Homo sapiens: one gene and its partners. The protein of the gene in region 4 purifies or fractionates together with the protein of the main gene of each other region. This does not show direct contact. Each region holds a gene or a part of one and is shown on either strand. Other genes may lie near its edges.

Region 1 (3,500 bases), 1.4 Mb from region 4:
GAGTAGGCAGCTCTTGGCATTTTGAAAATAATGAAGTCTATATAAGACCACTTACAAAAGAGACAATGAACTGGATAGGGACCAAAGGATTTCCTTCACATATACGGGCACAATGCAGTTTACACTCAATAAAACATCAAAAGAGGACAGACATGAGTTGTCCTTTGCAAACAGCAGTGGCTCTTAGCCTTCTCTGGGATGTGGGTTCTTGGAAATCGGATGCAAGTTACAAACCCTCGCCCCAAGCAGGGCTGGGGAGGAATGCACATAGAAGGATGCATCGAAGATTCTGCACACAGACCTCAGAAGCCCACTAAAGGCCGGTGGTGGTGATGGCTCCCGAGATCCCTGATGCTAAAGGCTTCTGAGTTGGTTAAATACCTAATGCTCCCTGTAAAACCATATACACGCCTTCAACTTTCTGCCTGTTTTTCAACTCTCCCAGCCCTTGCTTCCTTCCTTCATCTGGCCTTGGACAGAGTGAGGCTGAAAAAGCCCCCGGCCTAGCATCCGCGGACGAACTCGCCCAGGCAGGCCCCTGCGGCCTCTCCGGCAAGGACCCTCCCGCCTCGCCACCTCCCCGGCCCCCAGACAGCGACACTGCTCGCCCTGCCTGGAGGCTCCCGCTCAGTCCCCTCGGAGGAGGGGAGGCAGACGCAGTCTCACGGTTTTCTTGGCGGGCTCCTTTTTCCTCTTCTTCTCCGAGTTGCTGTGGTAGGGCAGGTCGCGGCCGCGGTAGGACGGGCCGCGGGTCAGCTCCAGCTCGCTGTAGGGCGGCAGCGCGTCGTCGGACGCGTCCTCCTGGTCGTCCTGCGACGAGCCGGCCTTGTAGGTGCCGGGCGGCGACCAAGCGTAGTAGGAGGCGCTGCGCGGGCCGAGCTGCGCGCTCCGCTTGGATGGCGTCTCCAGGCTGCCACCGCGGCTGGCGCCCTCGGGCCGCGCCTGGCGCTCCCGCGCGCTGCCCAGGTACGAGTGGTCGTATTTGGGTGCGGTGCCTGGCGTGCGGCTCACCAGCCGCGGCAGGTGCGCGTCCTCGGCGGGTCTGCGGCGCGCGGGGCTGAAGGCCCAGCCGCGGTCAGCATCGGTCAGGGGCTCGCGGCTGCGGCTGCGCTGACCGTAGTACTCCTCCAAGGAGTCGTCCTGGTAGAAGCCGCTGTGCGCCCGCGACTCCGAGCGCTCGAAGCGGCTCCCGCCCCGCGCCTCGTGACTGTTGCCGTCTGCCCGGCGGGGCCGCTGGCCGTAGGAGTCAGCGAAGGCCGCCAGCTCGTCCATGGAAACGGCCGGCACCCCCGTGGCGAAGTTCTTCCGCGACAGCATCTCCGACTTGGAGCGCGGCTGGCTGCGGGCAGAGAAGGAGGGGGTCAGACGGCCGGTCCCTCCCTGGAGCTCCAGGTAGGGCTCCCAAGAGCACCCATCGTGTCCTGGGGCCACGCTCAGGAGACCTCGGCCTGAGCCTCAGCTCCGCTCCAGGCTGGATGAAGCATTCCAGGCTCCTCTCACACCCCAGAACGTCAAGTAGGGGCAACCGAGTCTATTCCACTCGTGTGCCACGCATCAAAATGGGGTTGTGTGGATAGAACATATTCTGTATCCTATGGAATACTGACCCACCGTGGGGCTGCCTTCTGGTCATTATGTTGTGACCTCGGGTTGACAGCCACACGTCTCCACCCTCAAAGCCAGCGCAGGTGTCAGTACACACAGTTATGGTCCCAGGAGTCCCTGTAATGTGTGGTGACACACAGAGAGGCCTTTTCTTCCCTCAGAGCCAAGGGCCAAGTTACCTACTGGGGCAGGAGGGGAGAAGGACACTTGCAATTTGTAAGGGAAAGGCAATGTTCACTGTCTTTTAAGGTAAAGGACAGATGAGTGGTGAAGGTGCTATTTAGGGGGAATAGCAAATCTTAGCCTCCCACAATTGTTGTGGGAGGCCACATCACCTGGGTAAGTGCCTTAGCACCTAGAAGTTTCCATTTTCCCAGCTTAAAATAGGGGCATTAATAGTAGCTGCCCTTTAGAGTTATGAGAATTAAATGTAAGAGAAGTGTTTGGCATTTTACCTTTCATATACTAAATGATCAAAAATGAGGGAGATGGCCAGGCATGATGGCTCATGCCTGTAATCCCAGCACTTTGGGAGGCCAAGGTGGGTGGATCGCTTGAGCTCAGGAGTTCAAGACCAGTCTGTCAACGTGGCAAAACCCTGTCTCTACCGAAAAAAACAAAAAAAAGATGGAGATGATGGGTGGGATTTTGTAGAGGTTATAGGATAAAATATATGAGAAGGGCAGAGATATATTAATGTTCATTAAAGGGTCTAGGGGACCCATTTCAAAGGTCTTGAATAATTACTTCTACACATGTTGTCACAAGTGTTCCCTGTCTTGACAAATGTGAGATGTTCAATATCCTGTAGAAAGAGAGATGTGTCAGGATAACCTGGAATGGGAGACAGAGATGCTACTGGATGGCATCTTCCTTGCCTCCGATCTACCCTGCCTTCCAGCTCCTGCCCCCTCACACCGACCAGACCTGCCCCTCACAGCCATCACCTGTGCCTGAAGCTCTCTCGATCCTCTTTGTTATACTCCATGGCTGAGGGCCCGCGGCTTGCCCCACTGCTGCCTCCCATGACACCTGACCAATAGTCAGGATTGCTCTCCAAGTCCCCAGACACAGGGAACTGCTTGCTTCTCATCTGATGGAAAGACTGGCGGAAATTGCTGTCCTCCTCATGTAGGGAGCTGAGTTCTGAGATGGTGTTGTTATCTGCAGGGACAAAATCAGGCATGATAGAGCTTTTTGTGTTACTCTGTTTTAGACAGGAAGAGAATCCTGTTAAGGGCTGAGACCCTAGGCTCCAGGAAACTCCTGCCTCATTGCTGTCCAGGGTGGGTTGTAAGCCTGAACTAGTGGTGTTTGTATTCTTAGCTCAGCAGGCATTGGCTCCAGTTTGAAGCCTACTTGCTTACAGAGAGGGAGGTTCCTACATGCTCTGTTCTTGGAATAGGAGAACAAGTTTGTTATTGTTGCACCTAAGGCAGGCTTTCCAGAACTCAGGATCTCTGTTGCTGGCCTCCTCCTAGTACATCATCATCCTTGTTCAAATGTTTTCTTCTTCCTTTATAATTCTGTGATGAGCTGTGTTGATCCTAGACATGTTAAGCCAAAAACAGAAAAAGAGAGACAGAAGCCATAGATCACAGCATCTTCCTTACTGCTGGCCCAGTCCTAAGATGGACCTTCAGAGCCAGTACTGCCATATGCTGTAGAGGCACTGCATTCTGGCCTCCTTTGGCTGTGCCCCTCCCCACAGAGCAGGAAGTCCACAGAATAGTTGAATAGTCAAGGGGAAACCTGTACCTAGTATCCATATACCCCCTGACTTAGCCCATGCTCATTTAGGAACCTGGAAGATCCTGCTCAAGTAGCACCAAGCCTACTTCCAGCACTTGGGCAGACCTCTTCCCCTCTCCCAAAAAAGTTTTCCAGGGGTATGT
Region 2 (3,500 bases), on a different chromosome or scaffold from region 4:
TGGCGCCATCTCAGCTCACCACAACCTCTGCCTCCCGGGTTCAAGCGATTCTCCTGCCTCAGTCTCCCAAGTAGCTGGGATTACAGGCATGCGCCACCATGCCTGGCTAATTTTGTATTTTTAGTAGGGATGGCGTTCCTCCCTGTTGGTCAGGCTGGTCTCCAACTCCCGACCTCAGGTGATCTGCCTGCCTCGGCCTCCCAAAGTTCTGGGATTACAGGGGTGAGCCACCACGCCCGACCTTAATTTTTAACTGCGGTAAGATACACATGGCATAAAGTGTATCATCTTAACCCTGTTTAAGGGCACAGTTTAGTGGTCACCTCCCTCTGTCCGCAGAGCTCTCCGCCTTCCCAAACTGAAGCTCTGTCTGCATCAAACGCACACTCCCAGTCCCTTCCCAGCCCGCGGCTCCCTCTACTCTCCTTCCTGTCTCTATGGTTTTGGCGACTCTGGGGACCTCGTGTAAGTGGGTCCTGCAGGATTTGTGCTTTGGTGACGGGCTCGTTTCACTGAGCCTCTTGTCCTGGGGCTCCTCCCTTCTGGGTGGACATCAGATCTCCTTCCTTCTCAGGACACAGTCACTCCGCAGTGTGGATAGGATAGACGCAGCTGCTCTTCCATCCCCCGGCTGTGAACTTAAGGACTGCCCACCCCTGGGCTGTTGTGAACATCGGTGTCTGAGTCTGTGTCTTTTTTTTTTTTTTTTTTTTTTGAGACAGGGTCTCGCTTTCTCACCCAGGCTGGAGTGTAGCGTGGGGTCACAGCTCACTGCAGCTTCAACCTCCCGGGTTCAATCAATCCTCCAGCCTCAGCCTCCCAAGTAGCTGGGACTACAGGCGTGAGTCACCATGTCCAGCTAATTTTTGTATTTTTAGTAGAGATGGGGTTTTGCCATGTTGCCCAGGCTGGTCTCGAACTCCTGAGCTCAAGCAAGCCACCCACCTCAGCCTCCCAAAGAGCTGGGATCACAGGGTGAGCCACCGCACCCAGCTAATTTTTGTATTTTTGTAGAGGCGGGGTTTCCCTATGTTGCCCAGGATGGTCTCAAACTCCTGGGCTCAAGCAATCTGCCCGCCTCAGCCTCCCCGAGTGCTGGGTTTACAGGGTGAGCCACCATGCCCGGCCCGCCTGCGTCTCTTAAAGGCTTCCAGGATGTGGCTGCGTTGGGCTCCTAGGGCCCCGTTCTCCAAACCTGGTTCTCCTTGTGGGTCTGGTCCGGCCGGAACTTCCCACCAATCTGCATTACGGTGGACGGTGGGAAAAATAGGGGCAGTGTCTCTCGCGGTGGGCGCGCTCACCTGGCCTTGTGCGGAGGTGACGATGTTATGAAATGAGATCAGGATAGGAAGGGTTTGTAAAAATATCTTCATTCGGCCAGGCACAGTGGCTCACACCTGTAATCCCAGCACTTTGGGAGGCCAAGGCAGGTAGATCACCTGAGGTCCGGAGTTCAAGACCAGCCTAGTCAACATGGTGAAACCCCGTCTCTACTAAAAATACAAAAATTAGCTGGTCGTGGTGGTGCATGCCTGTAGTCCCAGTTACTCGGGAGGCTGACGCAGGAGAATCACTTGAACCCGGGAGGCAGAGGTTGCAGTGAGCCGAGATCGCGCCACTGCACTCCAGCCTGGGCTACAGAGTAAGACTCCCTCTCAAAAAAAAAAAAAAAATTTCATTCAGCAGAGGAAAGAATCGGCCACCCTGTAGTCCCCTGGTTTTGACATTTATTTGTACCTGCCCATAACACTGAAAAGTCTGGGCAGCGCCTGCCCCCACCTCCGGCCCCTGCAGCCCCTGGTATGTGACCCTGGAGAGGCAGAGCCAGGAGTGGGTGTCGCTGAGCTGGGGGTGATTCTAGAAGACGGGGGTGCCAGGGGGCCAAGGGGATGGCAGGGGAAGGCTGGGGTGGATCCGGAGGCCCTTCCTGTGGGAAGTGGGGTTGAGAGCACCCTGAGCCTGGGTGCCCCGAGGGCACCTCCTCACGCAGCCCCTTCCCCCACAGGGCCGGCTCCCAGGCCTCAGGGTCCGCTGCATCTTCCTGGCCTGGCTGGGCGTCTTTGCAGGCAGCTGGCTGGTGTACGTGCACTACTCGTCCTACTCGGAGCGCTGTCGCGGCCATGTCTGCCAGGTGGTCATTGTAAGTGTTGCTTGTGCGGGCTGGGGACTGGGCCGTGCCCCCTGCTGCCCAAGATGCTGGGGCACCAGGCCCTGGAGACACCTTCCTCCCCAGACCCAGGGCCCACGAGGCACGTGGGTTTCTAGGTGGAATCTGCAAAGCTGCCTCAGGCTGGGTGTGGAGGACAGGGGTCCAGGGGAGGACGGGGGAGACGTGCGGGGCTGCCTCAGGCTGGGTGTGGAGGATGGGGGTCCAGAGGAGGATGGGGGAGACGTGGGGGCTGGGGGCAGAAGGCAGGGCAGACTCCAGAAATCTTTGGGAGGGAGGATGTTTAGCAGGAAGCCTGGGGTGGGCAGCTGGCCTCACTGCTCCGGGATAGAGACCCCCGTGTGGTGTCCTCACTGGATGGGATAGAGACCCCCGTGTGCTGGCCTCACTGGTCCAGGATAGCGACCCCCGTGTGCTGGCCTCACTGGCCTGGGATAGAGACCACCGTGTGCTGGCCTCACTGGTCCAGGATAGAGACCACTGTGTGCTGGCCTCACTGGTCCGGGATAGAGACCCCCGTGTGCTGGCCTCACTGGTCCGGGATAGAGACCCCCGTGTGCTGGCCTTAGTGGCCTCGCTAGCCCCCCTGGGACCAGGGGTCCCCTGAGGCAGGTGGCAGGGCAAGGTCCTCCACAGCCTCCACCTCAGGGAGATAGGGCTAAGTCCCCTGGCGTATGTGAGCATGTGTGTGTCTGGGAGCAAACGTGTCCACATGAGTGCACACCAAGGTGACCCCCTGCCCCTCTCCACACCCTGTGACTAGCTCAGAGGGGAGGTCATCCCAGCTCTGTCTTCCTGGCAAACCCTAGACTCGCCCAGAACTGGGCAGGTCCCCCACTGAATTTTGACCCCAGGCTGCCCGATGACCAGGGTTCCGATGCCTCCACTCCCCTTGGGGTCAGGCCTGGGCATAGAAGGATCTGGCCTGTAGCAGCGGCCACTGTGGGTTGTCATAGGGTGATTGGGTGCAGGGAGACCCCAGGTTCGGTGTCTCCTCCGTCAGATGGGGAGAGCACCTCTCCTGGCAACTGGGTGGTGGATGAAGCTAGCCGGGTGGGCCTGGGCAGGCCTGTGTCCCACAGAGCCATGTCTGACGGGGGCCACATGTGGAAAGGCCCAGATGTGGCAGTGGAGGACTGGGGTGTGGGGTCCGGAGCTAGGAGAGCTTCTGTGCCCAGGACTTGTTTGGAGCCCATGCCAGCCCAGGGGAGGCCTCCGGGCCCCTGGACCAGGCCTTGCTCACCCTTGAAGTCCAGGGGGCCTCTGAGCCCAGCAGGGCCGGAGGGTGGCACATGGGGCTCGTCCTGGGGCCATGGGTGGGGAAGGCTGTGCC
Region 3 (3,500 bases), about 73 Mb from region 4:
TAAAATCTTTAAACTTGAGATCAAAGAATAATTCAGATTCTTTCTATAAATCCTAAAATTCACCTCTTAAAAAGATTAAGAATGCTAAAACTCTGACCAGTAGACTCATAATGCCTTTTTTTTTTTTTTTTTTTTTGAGACAGAGTCCCCATTCTCAAAATTAAGAACATTTGTGTATGGAGTATTTAGGGGTAAAGTAAAAGGACTTTGTGCTTTACATGTTTATGAAAGATGCAGAGTATTAAAAATAGATAATAGAAGTAGCCTTTTTTTTTTTTTTTTTTTTTTTTGAGACCGAGTCTCGCTCTGTCACCCAGGCTGGAGTGCAGTGGCATGATCTCGGCTCACTACAACCTCCACCTCCCGGGTTCAAGCGATTCTCCTGCCTCAGCCTCCCGAGTAGCTGTGATTACAGGCTCCCGCCACCACACCCAGCTAATTTTATGGGTTTCAGTGTGTTGGCCAGGCTGGTCTCGAACTCCTGACCTCATGATCCGCCTGCCTCAGCCTCCCAAAGTGCTGAGATTACAAGCGTGAGCCACCGCGCCCCGCCAGAAGTAGTTTTTTTGTTTGTTTGTTTGTTTGTTTGTTTGGAGACGGAGTCTCGCTCTGTTGCCCAGGCTGGAGTGCAGTGATGCGATCTCAGCTCAAGGCAACCTCTGCCTCCCGAGTTCAAGCGATTCTCCTGTCCCAGCCTCCCAAGTGGCTGGGATTACAGGTGCACGCCACCACGCCCAGCCAATTTTTTTTGTATTTTTAGTAGAGACAGGGTTTCAGCATATTGGCCAGGATGGGCTCTATCCTTTGGCTCCATGATCCTCCCACCTCAGCCTCCCAAAGTGCTGGGATAACAGGCGTGAGCCACCGCGTGGCCAGAAGTAGTCTTAAATGGCTAAATTTTGGTTGTTGCCTCTTTCTGCCTATTTTTAAAACTTAATGTAAAGTTACAAACAAGATCAAAAATTTTCAGATTTGTTTTGAAATAAGTTATCACAATGAAATCAAACGATATTTTAAAAGAAGAAAAACTATTACTATTTTTTAGAGTAGAATTGGCATTTTGTGTCATCGTGGGCTTACAATAAAATATTGGCAATCATTTACTCTAGTGATAACTGCTTCTGTTATTTCCAGACAGATGTTATTATATTTTTAAAATTACTAATATTTTATGCATTAAAGGCTAATATAAGATAAAATGCTAATGTCATACAAATTTAGCTCTTTCAACCCCACAGTTTTTGTTTTCATTTTATTGTGTAACTGTAAGTTTCTCAAACACATTTTGGGCCTGATAATGCTTTGCTGTGGGGGGCTACATTGTACATTGCAGGATGTTTAGCAGCATCTCTGGCTGCTACCCCACAAGATTTCAGTAGCAGCCTCCAGTTGGGAAACCAAACATGTCTCCAGACATTGCCAAGTGTCCCCTGTGGGGCAAAACTAAGTCCATTTGAGAATCACTGCCATAGTGTATTTACAAAAATTCTTATCATGCTTTTCAGGAACAAAATTAGGAAAAAAGCAACATACCATTACTAGCTAGGCACACAATCTGCCGAACAAAAAACTGCTGGGCAGTCATTGTGAATAGTTCAGCATAAATAAAAAGGTCAGACTACATTTCTTAATCAAAGACTACATTATCTAGGTAATTGGTACAGAACAGACCACTAGAAACATTTTAGTGAGTGGCACACAGGGAAATTAAATTGGTTAATAGCTACAGATGTAATTTATGGCTCTTTCTTCAATCATTATTTTTAAATGTGAGGCTGCAGGATCTGCAGATATTAAAGGACGCATGAAGGTCCTTTTACTACTTTGTGTTACCCCCAAATCACAGCAATTCTCAATGGCATGCTGAAAGAAAAAGGTGTCTCACTCCTTTTATCATTTTGTCTACAACAGGTGATGCCCAGTGCCCTGCTGGGAACATCATCAATCTAACTTCCTCTCAAAAATGTTTGGCATTCTTTGTCATGACAAGTAGGCATCGGGCAGTCCAGTTCATAGGGTTTTTCTCCATTTAAACATATGCCAGAGGAAGTAGAAAAACGTAGCTATTTGATAGGTAGAGAAAAGAAAAATATTTAAATATTGTCACAGAACCATTATCACACCTTAAAAAACTAAAATAATCCTTTACTATCATCAAGTATACTGTCATTCTTAAAATTTTCAATTGTCTTATAAATGTCATTTTTTACAGGTTTTCATTTGAATCAGGACTCAAAAAAGATACATGTGTTGTAATTATTTGATATATTTCTCTCTTTTTTTGCAACAGGGTCTCTCTGTGTCACCCAGGCTGTAGTGCAGTGGTGCGATCTTGGCTCACTGCAACCTCTGCCTCCCAGGCTCAAGCAATCCTCTCACCCTAGCCTCCCAAATAGCTGGGACTACAGGCATGAGCCACTATGCTTGGCTAATTTTTATTTTTATTTTTATTTTTTGAGATGGAGTCTTGCTCTGTCACCCAGGTTGGAATGCAGTGGCACAATCTCGGCTCACTGCAACCTCCGCCCCCCAGGTTCAAGCAGTTTTCCTGCCTCAGCCTCCTGAGTAGCTGGGATTACAGGTGCATGCCACCACACTCGGCTAATTTTTGTTTGTTTGTTTGTTTGTTTGTTTGTTTGTTTTTGAGACAGAGTCTCGCTGTCGCCCAGGCTGGAGTGCAGTGGTGCGATCTCGGCTCACTGCAGGCTCCGCCCCCCGGGGTTCACGCTATTCTCCTGCCTCAGACTCCCGAGTAGCTGGGACTACAGGCCCCCGCCACCTCGCCCGGCTAATTTTTTGTATTTTTAGTAGAGATGGGGTTTCACCGTGTTAGCCAGGATGGTCTCGATCTCCTGACCTCGTGATCCGCCCACCTCGGCCTCCCAAAGTGCTGGGATTACAGGTGTGAGCCACTGCGCCTGGCCTAATTTTTGTATTTTTAGTATAGGCGGGGTTTTACCATGTTGGCCAGGCTGGTCTTGAACTCCTCACCTCAAGTTGTTCGCCTGTCTTGGCCTCCCGAAGTTCTGGGATTACAGGCGTGAGCTCCTGGCTGGCCTTGGCTAATTTTTAAATTTTTTCATAGAGACAATGTCTCACTATATTGTCCAGACTGATCTCAAATTCCTATACTTAAGTGATTCTCCTACCTCAGCCTCCGAAAGTGCTGGGATTACAGATCTAGCCTAATATATATCTTAAATGATTTTTAATCTTTAAGTTTCCCCTTGCCTTTTTTTCCCTTCTTGTAATTTATTTGTTGAAGAAACTGGATTGTTTGTATTGCAGTGTTTCCCACAGCCTGGAGTTTGCTGATTATATCCTTATAGTGTCACTTACTTAAGTGTCACTTGTGTTTCTCTGTCTCATGTATTTCCTGTAAACTGGTAGCTGGAGCTAAAAGGCTTGATCAGATTCAGATTCAGTTTTCTTTTTGGCAAGTCCGAAAAGAAGATGATAGCCACTGACAGTATTGTTGGCTTCTTGCCCAGTGACTTGCA
Region 4 (3,500 bases):
TAGCCAGTAGCCTTAGGTGGCTATTTAAATGTATTGAAATAAAATAAAATAAAAATTCAGTTCATTTGTTCTAGCCAAATTTCAAGAGCTCAATGGCCACATGCGGCTAGTGACTACTGTATCCGACACCATATATATAGACTATTTACCCTGTTGCAGAAACTTCTATTGGACAGCATTAGAGCAGACTTTGCGGGTAGAGGGGAATGGGATGTATGAGGCTAGGTTTTGTATGTTTTGGAGCTTAGAGTTTGAGTGAGTTTTCGAGAGCCTCCTGAAAGCCATTCAACCCTGTCCCCTGAGGGAAATCAAATATCCTGGGAAGAACTCAATGACCACTCTCACCTTCAAGTAGCATTAATGACTGGAAAATAACAGTGCTGGCCAGGAATTAGTCCTCCCACTTGCTAACCTGGGCCAGAAAGGAAATGGAATGTGTGGGTCTGTTTTCAGTCTGTATTGGTCAGGGCTCAATAGAGCACCCTAGCAAGGGACACATTACAACACACCTCCATTTCTGCTGTAACTTTCGTGTTTAAAAAAATGACTACATTAACTCTTTGAGAACTGAATACTTTTCAGTACATCTGGTGAGTATGCCATTGGAGAGTTTCTTTTGAATCAGACCTTTGATTATGGTGCCAGATCTCGCCAACTTGAGAAAGTTTTGATATTCTTGTTCAGTGTAGCCTTATGATAAAATAAAATGAATGAAACACTGGGCTTCCTCTACAACCCCTCTATGGGGGAGGTCCTTAGCAAAAATGTGGCACATTTTTTGAAGAAGCGTATGATATTGCCCTCATGTCTTTTCTTTTAAGACCTCTCCACTTCCTTCTTGCACCTCTGTTTCCTTCAAGGTTCTCCACTGCTGCAGAATTAATCTTAGCTAATCAAATTCCCAAGAATTAACTCCTCCTTCTGATATGAGAGCTGATAAAGGCTTAAGGACACTTGTCTTATTCTTCCCAGGAGTTCATGTATTTTTGCAGTTTCTTTTTCAAGATCATAACACATAATTGGGACCCAAAAGGATGAACCTCTAGTGACTAATTTCAGCTTAGTGGTAGGAAGTGGATAGGGACACATTGGGGCAAAAGTATTTATTGCTCAGTTATACCATGTAGGTGAAGTCTTTCTCCTGAGGCTAGAGAAAGTTGCCTACACATCCCTAGAATGTAGTCTACACATCCACACCTGCCTCTGGAAGTGGAGCTTGTCTTTAGGTAGAGCTTTGGTTCTAGGTTCAGGTGACTCAGGAACAGGCACCCTGCTGCTGCTGGTCCAGCCCCAAGTCTCATGGCCCAGGCTGAGACAAAGTCTTGATTTGAGCTTCTGCTTTTGTTCCTTAGGGTCTGAAAACCCATGTTCTTAACTTATCTAATAATACCCAACTTAGTCAGAATGTGACATAGACTTGTCCTGTCCCTCCAGGATTCTCCTTGCCCCATTTTTGTATGGATTAGAGTCTTAGAAGCAGCTACCCACCTTCCCACATTCTATCTATATTCCCGCCTGCATCTCTATAGTCATATTTCTAGACAGGGTGCGTTGTCCTCTAACACCACGTATGCTGAGCCTTCCTGAAGTCCACTGCTTATCTAGGGGAACACTTGACTGCTTTCTGGTATTCTACTCTCTTAGTATCCTGTACCTTTCCTCATCTACCAACCATTTGTTTTTTGATTGCTTATGGTGTGTCAAACTTAAATGCTAATGGTACTTCATAAATGTTCTCATTTCATTTTATGACAGCCCTAGGAATGTTGGTTCTATTATTATCCTTGTATTCAAGATGAGGAAATTAAAGTTCAGAGAGGTTAAGTAACTTATCTTATATCCTGCAGATAGTCAGCATCAGGGCTAGAATTATAACCCGTCAATTTTATTACAGAACCTGAGCTCTTAACACTGGGCTCTGCTGCCTGAGGGTGACTGTCCTTCATCTCTTGGAGGACAAGTGGCTGCCCCAAGTGCCTGTCACCCCAGCAGGCACATGCTGGCCTCGTTTGTCCTGCCCTGTTTTGTTCTGTTATGCACAACTAAACTATGACATAGATATGGCACAGATGACCTAGAGTTACGTAAGTCTCCATATGCAACCTCAGGTTTCTTGGTTAGTTACCTTCATGAGCACTTGTTTGGCACATAGTAGGCACTCAATAAGTATTTAAATAGATAAATGGATGAACTGAATTGTAGCATGGAAGTCCTTTACTTCACTGCATTGCTTTTCAAGGAATATATATGCACTCTCATATTGCCCTTAATATTACACTACAGTGAAAATTTCCCAGGGCTAAGGTTCAGTATTTCCTTGGGCCTAAAATGAGTCTGTTTGTGAAATGGATTCTGTTTTATAAACACCAGATAACTCAGGTTATTTCATAGAAATCTTCCTATCTCCTGAAATGTGGATATATGTAGAGAGATACATGGGCTCCATGCTAGAATATGTCAAAGATCACCATTTTGATAACAAATGTGGTATAAATAGGTGGGCTTAAGTTTGAAACTTCACCAAGAATGTTTGCCAATAGCAAAGATATTTCCACGTAGCAGAGACCATGAACCATCATTTGAGAGTCAAATGAATTAAATACCTTTCCTTACATTGAGGTTTGGCTAGAAGGCAAGAGAAGCAGCTAATGAATTTTACTGTATGTGTGTTCAACTTTATGGGTATGCATGTATCTGTTCATGTATATGAGTGTGAACTTGTACATTTATGTGTGTGTATGTAATATGTGGATGGGTACGTAAGTAGGTATGTATGTATAAATGGTATATACGTGTGGGTATGTAAGTATGTATTTATATATGGTATGAACATATGTATATATGGTATATACAAACCTTTGTGTTTGCATATGTGTGTGTAGGTATTTGTGTTTGCATGTGTGTTTGTGTGCATATTTGTGATTGTATGTGTGTATGGGAAGGAAGAACCAGACTGATTAAGGCCCAAATGAGAGCAAATGCTAAGGTTAGATTCACCCTTTTGGAGTTGGGGTAGACTGGGGTGAAACCTGGGTTTGCAAGGGAAGTACAGGCATATCAATGGATTTATGACGGTTAGTGCTTATTATCCAATGAAAATGATCTCAAGATCATTTCCCAGTTCCAAGCGGCAGCCAGATAGAAAATAAAGCTGAAGTTTAGATGCTGTAGCCATATGTTTATAATATAACTTATATTTATAACTAAACTCACTTACAGGATGATAGTTATGTAATTTGAGGATTTACGAGATAGTATAGTCTTGTGGAAAAAGACCTGCATTTGAAATCAAGGGGTTCAAGTCACTTTCTTGCCATTTATCAGCTGTGTGATTTTGGGCAGGTGAGTCTATTTTCTCATCCAAGGATAGGGTTAAAAATACCAATCCTAGACTCTTCCACAGGCTGAGGGCACAAGTTTAAGTGTTGGTGTGACACTCATGCTAAAGGAAATGAGGTACCATGTGTGGAAAAATGGAGGGAGATGAGCAAATTAGCAGT

Evidence for each region. The genes of interacting proteins can lie anywhere in the genome.
Region 1: the proteins of LRRC52 (region 4) and ILDR2 purify together in Homo sapiens (co-immunoprecipitation; one large-scale study listed by IntAct). This does not show direct contact.
Region 2: the proteins of LRRC52 (region 4) and DIPK1B purify together in Homo sapiens (affinity purification with mass spectrometry; one large-scale study listed by BioGRID and IntAct). This does not show direct contact.
Region 3: the proteins of LRRC52 (region 4) and DIPK1A purify together in Homo sapiens (affinity purification with mass spectrometry; one large-scale study listed by BioGRID and IntAct). This does not show direct contact.

Annotation. Positions count from the first base shown.
Region 1 is NC_000001.11:166,920,041-166,923,540, forward strand, and holds part of ILDR2 (immunoglobulin-like domain-containing receptor 2 isoform 1 precursor), read right to left. Parts: intron 3,153-3,500; coding exon of another isoform or gene 3,151-3,152; exon of another isoform or gene 3,061-3,150; intron 2,770-3,060; coding exon 2,553-2,769; intron 2,411-2,552; coding exon of another isoform or gene 2,332-2,410; exon of another isoform or gene 2,191-2,331; intron 1,340-2,190; coding exon 667-1,339; coding exon of another isoform or gene 628-666; exon of another isoform or gene 1-627. UniProt on the Homo sapiens protein: May be involved in ER stress pathways with effects on lipid homeostasis and insulin secretion. With ILDR1 and LSR, involved in the maintain of the epithelial barrier function through the recruitment of MARVELD2/tricellulin to tricellular tight junctions.
Region 2 is NC_000009.12:136,715,572-136,719,071, forward strand, and holds part of DIPK1B (divergent protein kinase domain 1B), read left to right. Parts: intron 1-1,710; exon of another isoform or gene 1,711-2,005; coding exon 2,006-2,140; exon of another isoform or gene 2,141-3,500.
Region 3 is NC_000001.11:92,877,963-92,881,462, reverse strand, and holds part of DIPK1A (divergent protein kinase domain 1A), read left to right. Parts: intron 1-3,500.
Region 4 is NC_000001.11:165,547,000-165,550,499, reverse strand, and holds part of LRRC52 (leucine-rich repeat-containing protein 52 precursor), read right to left. Parts: intron 1-3,500. UniProt on the Homo sapiens protein: Auxiliary protein of the large-conductance, voltage and calcium-activated potassium channel (BK alpha).